Homo sapiens: one gene and its partners. The protein of the gene in region 3 purifies or fractionates together with the protein of the main gene of each other region. This does not show direct contact. Each region holds a gene or a part of one and is shown on either strand. Other genes may lie near its edges. The genes, in order: GALNT2, ALG14 and LRTM2.

What was found.
Region 1: the proteins of LRTM2 (region 3) and GALNT2 purify together in Homo sapiens (affinity purification with mass spectrometry; one large-scale study listed by BioGRID and IntAct). This does not show direct contact.
Region 2: the proteins of LRTM2 (region 3) and ALG14 purify together in Homo sapiens (affinity purification with mass spectrometry; one large-scale study listed by BioGRID and IntAct). This does not show direct contact.

Annotation. Positions count from the first base shown.
Region 1 is NC_000001.11:230,245,149-230,248,797, forward strand, and holds part of GALNT2 (polypeptide N-acetylgalactosaminyltransferase 2 precursor), read left to right. Parts: intron 1-914; coding exon 915-1,002; intron 1,003-3,649. UniProt on the Homo sapiens protein: Catalyzes the initial reaction in O-linked oligosaccharide biosynthesis, the transfer of an N-acetyl-D-galactosamine residue to a serine or threonine residue on the protein receptor.
Region 2 is NC_000001.11:95,062,942-95,066,590, reverse strand, and holds part of ALG14 (UDP-N-acetylglucosamine transferase subunit ALG14), read left to right. Parts: intron 1-1,573; coding exon 1,574-1,725; intron 1,726-3,649. UniProt on the Homo sapiens protein: Part of the UDP-N-acetylglucosamine transferase complex that operates in the biosynthetic pathway of dolichol-linked oligosaccharides, the glycan precursors employed in protein asparagine (N)-glycosylation.
Region 3 is NC_000012.12:1,819,380-1,823,472, forward strand, and holds the start of LRTM2 (leucine-rich repeat and transmembrane domain-containing protein 2 precursor), read left to right. Parts: upstream 1-1,185; 5' UTR 1,186-1,435; intron 1,436-4,093.

The DNA of each region.
Region 1 (3,649 bases), on a different chromosome or scaffold from region 3:
AGGGGGATTTTTTTTTTTTAATAGAATCACAGGGGCTGGACGCAGTGGCTCACGCCTGTAATCCCAGCACTTTGGGAGGCCGAGGCAGGCAGATCACCTGAGGTCAGAAGTTCAAGAATAGCCTGACCAACATGGAGAAATCCCATCTCTACTAAAAATACAAAAATTAGCTGGGCGTGGTGGTGCATATCTGTAATCCCAGCTGCTTGGGAGGCTGAGGCAGTAGAATCACTTGAACCCGCGAGGCGGCGGTTGTGGTGAGCCAAGATCACGCCATTGCACTCCAGCCTGGGCAACAAGAGTGAAACTCCGTCTCAAAAAAAAAACAAAACAAAAAAACAAAAAAGATAGAATTACAGATGAGGCAAACGTAGAATCTGGAAATCTCTGGTTGATTTGGTTAACCTTCTGCTGTGATAATATTGATACTTACCACATCTCTCTCACACACACACACTCCCACATAGAAATATATTCCTAATTTTGATGTATGAGCATTTTAGCAGTGACTCCATTCCTGAAGTTTACTGCAGCTCACAAATCACTAATGGTATTTGGGCAAACAGAAAAGGACCCTTGGGACACAGCAACACAGTTTTTGCCTTTAGCTGGGTGAACTGATGGCTACCTGTCCCATAACCATGGGTGTCTCCACTCCTAGAGTGACTCCTGCTACGCACCCACTCCTGACCTCCCTCCCTGCCTCCCAGCAGGCCACAGCACATCTGTGGATGGCCAAGAGCAAGACCTTCTGGGTCTGGGTGGGGAGGCTGGGTTCTTGAGGGCCTAGGGTAGTAGGTAGTAAGGGCCAGTTGGGTTTGCCCTGTGCCTGCCTAATACTAATGCCTTCTGTGGTTGGGCAGGTTTTTTGTTTTGCTGGGATTTTGATAACTACTCCTCTCTTTGTATTTTAGGACAGGACTCGGGTTGTGTCACCCATCATCGATGTCATTAATATGGACAACTTTCAGTATGTGGGGGCATCTGCTGACTTGAAGGGCGGTAGGTGTCTGTCATGGTGCCCCTGCCTAGCTCGTCCCGTCTACACCAGCATCTGATCACCACTCCCTCTCATTGTCAGGAGTGACAGTGACAACAGTGTTCACGCCGTAGTGTGTGTTCTGAGTAAAAACCACCTGTGTGCTTAACGAGTAGGACTTCATAAAGAGAAAAAAAAATAGGCTTGCTCCCTTAAAGAGCTTCCTGGGTTTCCCTTTCTCCTCTTCCTTGACCTTCTGTCACTTTTGCGAGCCATGTGGTTCCATGAACAGATATGGCGTCCTTTATGACCAGAGATGATGAAGCCCTCCTTGCAGGAATCTGGGGTGAGAAGCTTCACGGAGCTGAGGCTTTGTGGGATTCAAGGGGCTGGAGCCTGTCTTTGCCTTCTCTGCTCACCCTGGCTATTTCTCTGACAGCCTGGTCTCTTTCTGGTTGCTCAGATGGAGACCTGTGTCATCCTCAACCCCCTCGCCCTCACCAAGCCCACGTGTGACCCTGTTCTGCTGATACAGCCCCTTGCATGTATCATGGTTTCTTGTACCCCTCTTTCCCAGCCCAACACCTGTGCCTACATCACCCTGGTCCCCTTCCGTTGGAATGACCACACCAGTTTCCTGTATGTCCTCACCGCACCCACCCTGGAGCCCCAAGAGCACTTTGTCTGTTTACCCTCTTAAAAATTATCAAAGACCTCAAAGAGCTTTCATCTGTGTGAAGATGAACTATTCTAGATAGACACTGGGCAGAGGGTTAACTGATGGTCTAACATCAAAAAAGAAGACAGTAAAACTATAAAATAGGGCCTTGACCAGGTGCAGTGGCTCACGCTTATAATCCCAGCACTTTGGGGAGGCTAAGGTGGGAGGATTGCTTGAGCCCAGGAGTTCAAGACCAGCCTGGGCAACATAACAAGACTCTTGTCTCTATTAAAAAAAAAAAAAAAAATTAGCTGCGTGTGATGGCATGCCAGCTACTCGGGGCTAAGGTGGGAGGATCACTTGAGCCTGGGAGGTCAAGGCTGCAGTGAGCCACGATCAACCCTGGGAGACAGAGTGAGACCCTGCTTATTCATACACACACACATATGTGTGCAAGCAAGCCTTAACCCCAGAAAACAGAATACTTGGACTTTTTAGGGAGACTCAGCCACGGTCCTAGACATTGTGGGCTTTGGCCCCACCTGCCTCTTGCAGGCCCCGTCATCATGGGCAGGCCATTTTGCCTCTGCTTCTCAGCTTCCCCCTCTGGGAAATGGGATGATAATTGTGCTGGCCACACAGGGCATAATGGAATTAGACATCAGCGGGAGGGCGGGCATGCTTGGAGGACTGTACCTAGGGTGGGAAACATAACATTCAGGAACGATTCCCAGCAAATGGTGAGAAGTAAAATGTTTGGGGACATTAAAGAGGAGGGATCCTTAGATAGCTAGAAAGCCTGGCTTTCAGAATGTTGTATTTCCCCAAGTATTCGAAGAGCTGAGATCTACCAGGCTCTATTTCTCCCAAAGCAGCTGCGTATGTCAGAGCAGGGGCAAGAACAGCCAGGTGTTCCGTGTGGGGGTGCAGGTCTTCTGGGTCAGAGGAACGGGGCCACGTTCACCCTAAGAGCATTTTATGAAATTCCTTTAGAAAAAAAATCAAGGATGCCATTCTTAACAGATCTTTAATCTGCTATAGCCTCTCTCTTTGGACCAAATTAATAAAATAAATAATAAGATAATAGTAAACATCAAAAAAACAAAGGAAAGGTTATGTCAGCTAATCCTTAACCTTCTCTGTTAGTGAAACAGCCAGGACATTGTTTTTCTGGTTTTCCTTCGTGGCCTTTGAGGCACCATGATAAGAGCCAGCTCAGGGGCCCGCAGGGGTCTCCTCTCTGTGCATTTCTGTCCCCACTGCCTGGGCCCCTGTCCATTTCCCTCTCTCTTTGCCTGAGGCCACTCTATCCTGCAGTGAGGGAGCTGGGAGGCCTCTTTGTCCAGAGCCATAAATTCTTGGCCAGCCCAGGACACTCAGAAACCCTCACCCGCCATCCTTCAGTCACTGGGGCTGTCAGGGCGGACAGACTATGAATTCAAAGCATGCAGACAAATCCAAACTTAGGCATTGCAAAAGCCCTGTTGACAAAAAGCCTGATGGCAGAGAGCTTAAGAGGATTGAAAGATGCATGCCCTAGAGTCATTAGGTTTTGCTGTCAGACCCTTGGAATTGGAAATGCAGCACCATGAGCCATGTGTTTGCCAAGAAGTGGCCTCCTGATGCACCAGGACAGCTTCCGCAGGTGGAGCCTGCTGGCCTCCAAGAGGCACTATGTGTGTGACCCTGGGAGCAAGAGCGAGACCTGAGGCCCTGCAGATGCCCACAACCAAGTCCGGGTACAGGGTCTAGGCTCTTCTATCCTCAGGGGTCTGTGGATTCCAAAAATGAAATGCAACAGGTGCCAAATATATCTGAAATTGAAGCTTATTTGCCCAGCTTGGCAACTTCCGCTGGCTCATTTTCCCTTAAAGTTTTCATATTCCCAGCATGTTCCCACTCCATTCTTGCTGCAAATACAGTCTGAAGTTTGCTGGCCCAGGGAACTGACAAAGCCTCGTTCCCTCCCCAGCATTGCCTTCCCCTGGGGCAGTGTTGGAGGTACCACG
Region 2 (3,649 bases), on a different chromosome or scaffold from region 3:
TTCTATATATAATTCCTTCTGGGATCTAGAACGAAATCCTTTCCTTTCTACTATTAAAAAAAAATGTGGGCTTGGCATGGTGGCTCACGCCTGTAATCCCAGTACTTTGGGAGGCCGAGTGGGTGGATCACCTGAGGTCAGGAGTTCAAGACCAGTCTGACTAATGTGGTGAAACTCTGTCTCTACTAAAAATACAAAAATTAGCCGGGCGTGGTGGCACACGCATGTAATTGCAGCTACTCGGGAGGCTGAGGCAGGAGAGTCGCCTGAACCTGGGAGGTGGAGGTTGCAATGAGCCGAGATCACACAATTGTATTCCAGCCTGGGCAACAAGCGTGAAACTCCACCTGGGGGGAGGTGAGGGGGTGGAGGGAATTTGTGTTGGGGGAAAACTCATGTTTAATTTATCTTTGTTTGTGTTCTTGTATCACTATATACTCTTTCTTACAACAATAAGGGAGGTGGGGTGGAGGAAGCCTTGTAGGTAGGGGGAGCAGCATGACCAGAGGCAAGGAGTGAGTAACGAATAAGGTGAATGCAGAGAATGTTGAAGACATCAACCTGACTGAGGCAGAGAGCTTGTGAAACGAGACTGAAATGGGTGTGATAGGGCTCCTTGATAAGGAGTTTGACTGTTGTGCTTAAATCGTTTATAGATAGGTAGATATTCTATTGTTGTTTTCATAAACAATGTTTTCATTGTCTCAATGAACATAGTTGATTTTTAAATTTATGCTTTCAAAATTAATGTATTAAAATTTTGGAGATTATATTATTTCAGAAACTGAACATTACTCATTTGGTGAAGCTGATAAATATTTGAGGACCTGCAGTGTGCTGAGACCTCTCATAGGAGCTGGGGTTACAGTGGTGAACAAAAGATGTTTCTTAGGAAGGCCCAAGCCCTGCTGATCAGCGCTCATGCCCCCTTCACCTTACTTCTCTACATAGAACCTTCAGTGACTGGCTTCCCTTTTCCCATCCTGCTTTCGTGCCTTATTTCACCTGTACCCTTCTTCCCAGTATTGCTATCACTCTTTGAACACATGTTTCAGATCTTGTCATCTCATGCCCTAACAATCCCCATCTCCACCCAGTGGCCTCCCTACTCCTATCTCTCCATTATCTTCACCTTTCAAGTCATCTCAGCCTTTTCCGGGGTTCTTCCTTATTTTTAAGGCATTGATTTTTCATAACCATTTGCTTACCCTTCACATTTTAGTTTTTCTTACTGTCTTGCATCTTCTTTGTCTTCATATATGTGTCTTGCCCCTTTCTCACCAGTCTTCTTGATAGCAAGAGCTATGTCTTATACTGTTTTGTGCCTTCCTTAGTACCTACTGCTAGTGCTGATTTTATTTTTATACATGTATTATCTGCTTTTGATATAAAAGTTGTATTTATACGAGGGCATAGATTTATTGTTTTCAAATGTTCCTTGTGTCTTCTGAGAAATATACAATTACAGTGCCCCCCCACCCCCAACCTGAAACCATGATATTGGTATAACATGGTCAAATGGATATGTCCATTGTGGGTTTCTTAATCTTAGGACTTCTGATATTTTTTCCAGGTGGGCATACCACTGAGATCCTGAGGCTGCTTGGGAGCTTGTCCAATGCCTACTCACCTAGACATTATGTCATTGCTGACACTGATGAAATGAGTGCCAATAAAATAAATTCTTTTGAACTAGATCGAGCTGATAGAGACCCTAGTAACATGGTAAGTGACAATTTCTATTTCTAAGAAAATTACAAGTTGCACATTGAGTTTAATTGTCTCTAGTAATAATCTCATGGCACTTCAGTGCCCTACCCACAATGGGCAGTCAAATGTTTGCTGGTGATGAAATACATTTCCTTTGCTACCAAAAGATATGAATTTCTATAAAATAAATCTTCAAATTAAAAAATGGTTGCTTAGCACATCAAAAAGTTTATCCACCATGATCAAGTTGGCTTCATACCCGGGATGCAAGGTTGATTCAACATACGCAAATCAATAAATGTAATTCATCACATAAACAGAACTAAAGACAAAAACGACGTAATTATCTCAATAGACACAGAAAAGGCCTTTGATAAAATTCAACATCCTTTCGTGTTAAAAACTGTCAATAATCTAGGTATTGAAGGAACATACCTCAAAATAATAAGAGCCATATATGACAAACCCAGAGCCAATATCATACTGAATGGACAAAAGCTGGAAGCATTCCCCTTGAAAATTAGCACGAGACAAAGATGCCCTCTCTCACCACTCCTATTCAACATAGTATTGGAAGTTCTGGCCAGGGCAATCAGGAAAGAGAAAGAAATGAAGTGTATTCAGATAGGGAGAGAGGAAGTCAAATTATCCTTGCTTGCAGATGACATGATCCTATATCTAGAAAATCCCATTGTCTCAGCCCAAAAACTTCTTAAGCTGATAAGCAACTTTAGCCAAGTCTCAGGAAACAAAATCAATGTGCAGAATCACTAGCATTCCTATACACCAACAACAGGCAAGCCGAAACCCAAATCATGAATGAACTCCCATTCACAATCACTGCAAAAAGAATAAAATACCTAGGAATATAGCTAACAAGGGAAGTGAAGGACCTCTTCAAGGAGAGCTACAAACCACTGCTCAGTGAAATCAGAGAGGACACAAACAAATGGAAATACATTCCATGCTCATGGATAGGAAGAATCAATATTGTGAAATGGCTATACTGCCCAAAGTAATTTATAGATTCAATGCTATTCCCATTAAACCACCATTTACATTCTTCACAGAATTATAAGAAACTATTTTAAAATTCATATGGAACCAAAAAGGAGCCCAAATAGCCAAGACAATCCTAAGCAAAAAGAACAAAGCTGGAGGCATCATGCTACCTGACTTCAAACTATACTACAAGGCTACAGTAACCAAAACAGCGTGATACTTGTACAAAAACAGATACAGACCAATGGAACAGAATAGAGAACTCAGAAATAAGACCACACATTTACAACCATCTGATCTACAAACCTGACAAAAACGAACAATGGGGAAAGAATTTTCTATTTTGCAAGGAGTTGAACTGGCTAGCCATATGCAGAAAATTGAAGCTGGATTCCTTCCTTACACTTTATACAGAAACTAACTCAAGGTGGATTAAAGACATAAATGTAAAACCCAAAATTATAAAAACCCTAGAAGAAAATCTAAGCAGTAGTATTCAGGACACCAGCATGGGCAAAGATTTTATGATGAAAATGCCAAAAGCAATTGCAACAAAAGTAAAAATTGAAAAATGTGATCTAATTAAACTAAAGAGCTTGTGCACAGCAAAAGAAACTCATCAGAGTGAACAGACAACCTACAGGATTGGAGAAAATTTTTGCAATATGTCCATCTGACAAAGGTCTAATATACAGAGTCTACAAGGAACTTAAACAAATTTACAAGAAAAAAACTGTTATTAAAAAGTGGGCAAAGGACATGAACAGACACTTCTCAAAAGAAGACATTCATGCAGCCAACAAACATATGAAAGAAAGCTCAACATCACTGATCATTAGAGAAACGCAAATCAAAACCACAATGAGATACCATCTCACACCACTCAGAATGGCGATTATTAAAAAGTCCAGAAACAACAGATGTTGGTGAGGTTGTG
Region 3 (4,093 bases):
CGGACAGAAGGGAGTGAGCAGGAGCATCCTTCTAGGGGCATCCTGAGTCCAGGGGGTTCTTCTACACCCACCCCAGTCCTGGCTGTGAACCCCTCCAGCAAAGCAGGCAAAATGGAAGAGGGACATAGGACACGGTGATATATCGCTAGCACGGTGCTTCATCTGTCTACAGGCAGTGGACGCAAAGGAAGGGGGATTTAGGGTTCGTGCTCCAGGCTGGTGGGGCCCTGGCTCCCCTCTAGCTTGGTCCCTGACTCACTTGGCCTTCAGATCAGCCACTTCCCATCTCTTAGGATATCAATTTTTCTGACTTGCTTTGTCCTGATTGGTTAAGAAAGAGGCCTCCAAGTTCTTGAATGACAGTCTCTTCCCTTCGCATGCCTGACCCATCACAGATAAGAGCAAGGAGCCCTGAGAAGCCAAGCTCGTCCCTGGCACTGAGAACGGTCTGCAGGCTGCTGCTGCAGGCTGCCCTGTGCCCAAACTCCCAGCCTGCCAACTCTGGCATTCTGCTTCCCTAAGTAGTCCTGGCGTCGGGTGGTCAGACCCTGAGGCTCAGTGACCTCTGCATGACCATGTGATCCCTGGCTTTGTGGGGGCTCAGGGCCCTTTCCTGTAGGGTCATCTGGCACATGGACATGCCTGTGTACCCTTCTTTCGTATGACCGAGAGAAGGGTTCGGTTTTTCCTTCTCTCAGGCAGGATGGGAGACTCTGCCTCGCATGTCTCTAAAACAGGAGAAAGACCAGCTTCCCAGGGGGGCCTCCATCGGAACAGAAGTCAGCCGCTTGCTCTGTGTCTGCGCCTGTCCCTCTTTCCCCAGATGGAGGGGAAGAGAGGAGAGAGGCACAGAAGACAGGTGCAGCCGGGGGGGTGAGGGAGAGCCTGGAGGCGCAGGATGGAAGATGGAGGTGGTGGTGAAACCGCTTTCCTCCTCCCTGTGGTCGGCAGCGATTCATCCACAGGCGCCTTTTTCCACTGAAATGTGAGCGTGGCCAGGGTGAGCGCTGCCCTCGCGGCCGGCCGTGGTGCCTCTGGTGTGCGCCTGTGTGTGCTGCTGCCGCTGTCATCACAGATGCACCCCAGCTGTCACTCCCCGCTCCACTCTGGCTCGCTGCTCGCGCACACGCGTGCGCTCTCCTCCCTCGCCCCTTTCTTCCCTCTCTCCTCTCTCTCTCTCCCTCCATCCCTCTCTTTCCTTCTCAGTTTGTGACTGACCCAGCAGCCCCGTCCCCCGTCTGCCACAAGCAGTCCACCTCCTGGTGCTGTGTGCTGCGTGCCAGCCGCTGCTCCCGCTGAGTGGAGACTCTGGCACCAGTGCCCACTGCGCTCTGCCTGCCGGTGGTGTCTGGATTTCTATAGGAATCCCAGGAGGGTCTTACTGGAGGGTTGAGAGCCACCTGATTGAAGGCGTTTGCAGTCAGAGTAAAGACGGGTGAGTACCGAGTGGCTGGTAGGAAGGAATGGAGGGTTGGTGGGGACAGGGGGTGGTCGGGGCATGGGAAGTGGGCACCGGCCATCTCTGCCCTGCAGGAATAGCTGCAGTTGCTTCCTACCTGCAGGCAATTGCTGGGGCCGAAGAAGCTGCTCGGGCTCAGGCACCTGAGCATCCCAAAGGTGCACGACACTGGGAACTCTGAGCCCACAGTGCTGGGGACAAGAGCTGTGGATTCTGCTGGGAAGTGGGGAGGAGGGCAGCGCTGGCGCCAGATGACAGTCCCGGGTGGCATAGAAACCGGTCCCTGCAGCATGGGAGAAGCAGCCAAGAGCCTTGTGCTGTCGTTGTGCCCGGCTCTGCACAGACAGCCCCAAGAAACTCGGGGGTCATGGGAAGCGGTTGGGATGGCAGTCAGGTGCTGGGGACAGGGCCAGGTCAGAGGAAGGCTTGGGGTGGAGGGTGGCAGGGAGGAGGTCCTGGATGTCAGAGGCATGGGCACAGACCCAGGTCCTGGGCCTCCCTATAGCTTGCCTGCAGGTGGCTGTCCTTGGACAAGGGTGTGGAGGAACCCTCCCCCAGATGAGCATGGGCCCACTCAGCTGTGCATGAAGCCTCCCTGGTGAGGGTGAGGCTGGGAGTGGGCAGGAGAGAGAAGTATCGCAGCCCTTCCCTGCTAGCCCAAGGGCAAGACAGGAGAACCAGGCCCGCGAGAACCTGCTGGGGTGTCCCGCAGCTGTGCACCCAGCCGTCCATCTGCAAATGGGTCAGGGAGCCTTAGTGGGGGCTGGACACTGAGCTTGGGTGGGGGGTACACAGCGGGGCCAGGCCTGCCTGGCTTCTTGACCCACACAGGGGGCATGGACACCCTGAGTAGAGCGGGACAGTTGCTCTCAATCCCCCAGACCCATTTGGACAGTGCTGGAGAGAGGAGCAGCCTGACCAGGAGTCGGAAGTTCACATTCCTGCACCTCCCTGCAGGTCTGGGGCTGGGTTCCAGTTGGCGGCCCTGTCTCTCCCCCACCCCCAAGCTGTCCACATTTCTGGGGGGTGTTGGCACCCGGCTGTCAGGGCTACTTGGGCAGTGTCTCTTTGTGACTCAGATGACACCCCTGCAGCTTAGATAACTGCCTCAGGTGGGGGCGGGGAGGGAGCCGAGCACGTGGAGCTGAGGCGGGGGAAGTCCAGCTGGTAGGGAAACCCGACAGCAGCTTCCGAGCTGCCAAGAAGAGCCCAGCTTTTCCCACCCCCACCTCCCCACCGGCAGAAAGAAAGTCTCAGCACTGCCAAAAGAGGGAGACCAGGAAAGCCAGGCCCGCGGGGAGGGGTAAGGAGAGAGGCTGCTTAAGCAGCCGATCTGGTGTCTTTGGGGTTTGACAGAAGCTTGTCTGGGCCCACGAGGAGCAAACTCTGCTCCCGTTTCCCAGGCACCAGAGCCCAGGGGCCGCCTCTGGGCTGCTATGGCCTCAGTGGGCAGTGTAGGAAGGAGGAGGGGATGGCATGTATGTGATGGTTGGGGGTGTCTGGGAGTTCTGGGGGTGGGCAGAGGAGAAAGGAGCCAGCATAGAGGCTGTCTGCCCCTCTGGTCTTCCTCCTTTTTCCCCCAGCCAAGCCTCCTGTGCCCTGCCTGGGAATACCACCCTGAGCCCAGCCCCAGGGACACCACCCTGAGCCCGGCCCCAGGGCCCAGTGGACACCTTAGCCTCCTTCATGTCAGGGACCAGCTCCCATGAGGGGCCACTCAGGAGGCTTCTCTGTTCTGCTTCCCAGAGGGTCTGTTTGAGATTGAGAATATTTGACAAGGAAACGGGGGTGCAGGAGGCTGGGGGTGAGGATGGGGCATGTGTTTTAAAATGAACCAGGAGGGTATATGGCTGTTCCAAGTACAAATATAGAGATTTTTAAAACCTGGTTCCTTGCTGCCTGGGCAGTGTGTGTGATGGGGGTGATGGGCAGCTGTCCTAGAGGGCCTGGGTGCCCAGACAGGCAGCGGTAGGCGGAGCCCAGCCTAGACGGCTGTGGCAGCCTCCCCTGCGTCCTGGCCACATGGAATCTCGGGCCGTCTTTGGCCCGGGGCTCTGGCTGGCCACTCTCCGGGCTCCCTCTCAGCCTTCCTGGGGTTGGTGGAAGGGCACGGCCCCTGCAGGCCCAGGGTGTGGGCCCAGTCGTGGCTCTGCTTCTCTCTGGCCTTCTGCAGAGTGAAGGGGGCGGCAGAGTAGGCTGCAAATGCCCCCTTTACCCCTGAGTTCTGTGACTCTTCCATGCTGAGGGGTATGGACTCTTGACCAAGGGGAGATGCCAGGGGAGTGGGCACACCCTAGGGCTAGTGTGATGGCCCAGGAGTCAGGAATTCAGAGGTGGAGGCCCGATGGGCATTATCTGGCTGTGTGTCTTGGATGCTTGATGTGGAGGGATAGACATGCGCAGAAGCCTGAGAGGAAGGGTGCGGACACCAGGTCTGTGGTGAGTGTGCTGGAGGTTTCTAGCTAGAGTCTGAGACTGATTAATTAACCTCCATCTGAGGAGAAATGGAAGGGGCAGGTGCATGGAGCGGTCCAGGCTCCTGCCGTCCCAACCTAGCTCTCTGCAGTGAGTGAGTGCGTGCGGCTGTTCCGTGCTCTGAGGGGGCCGAGTGGGGTGCTAGCAGGGAGGCAGCTC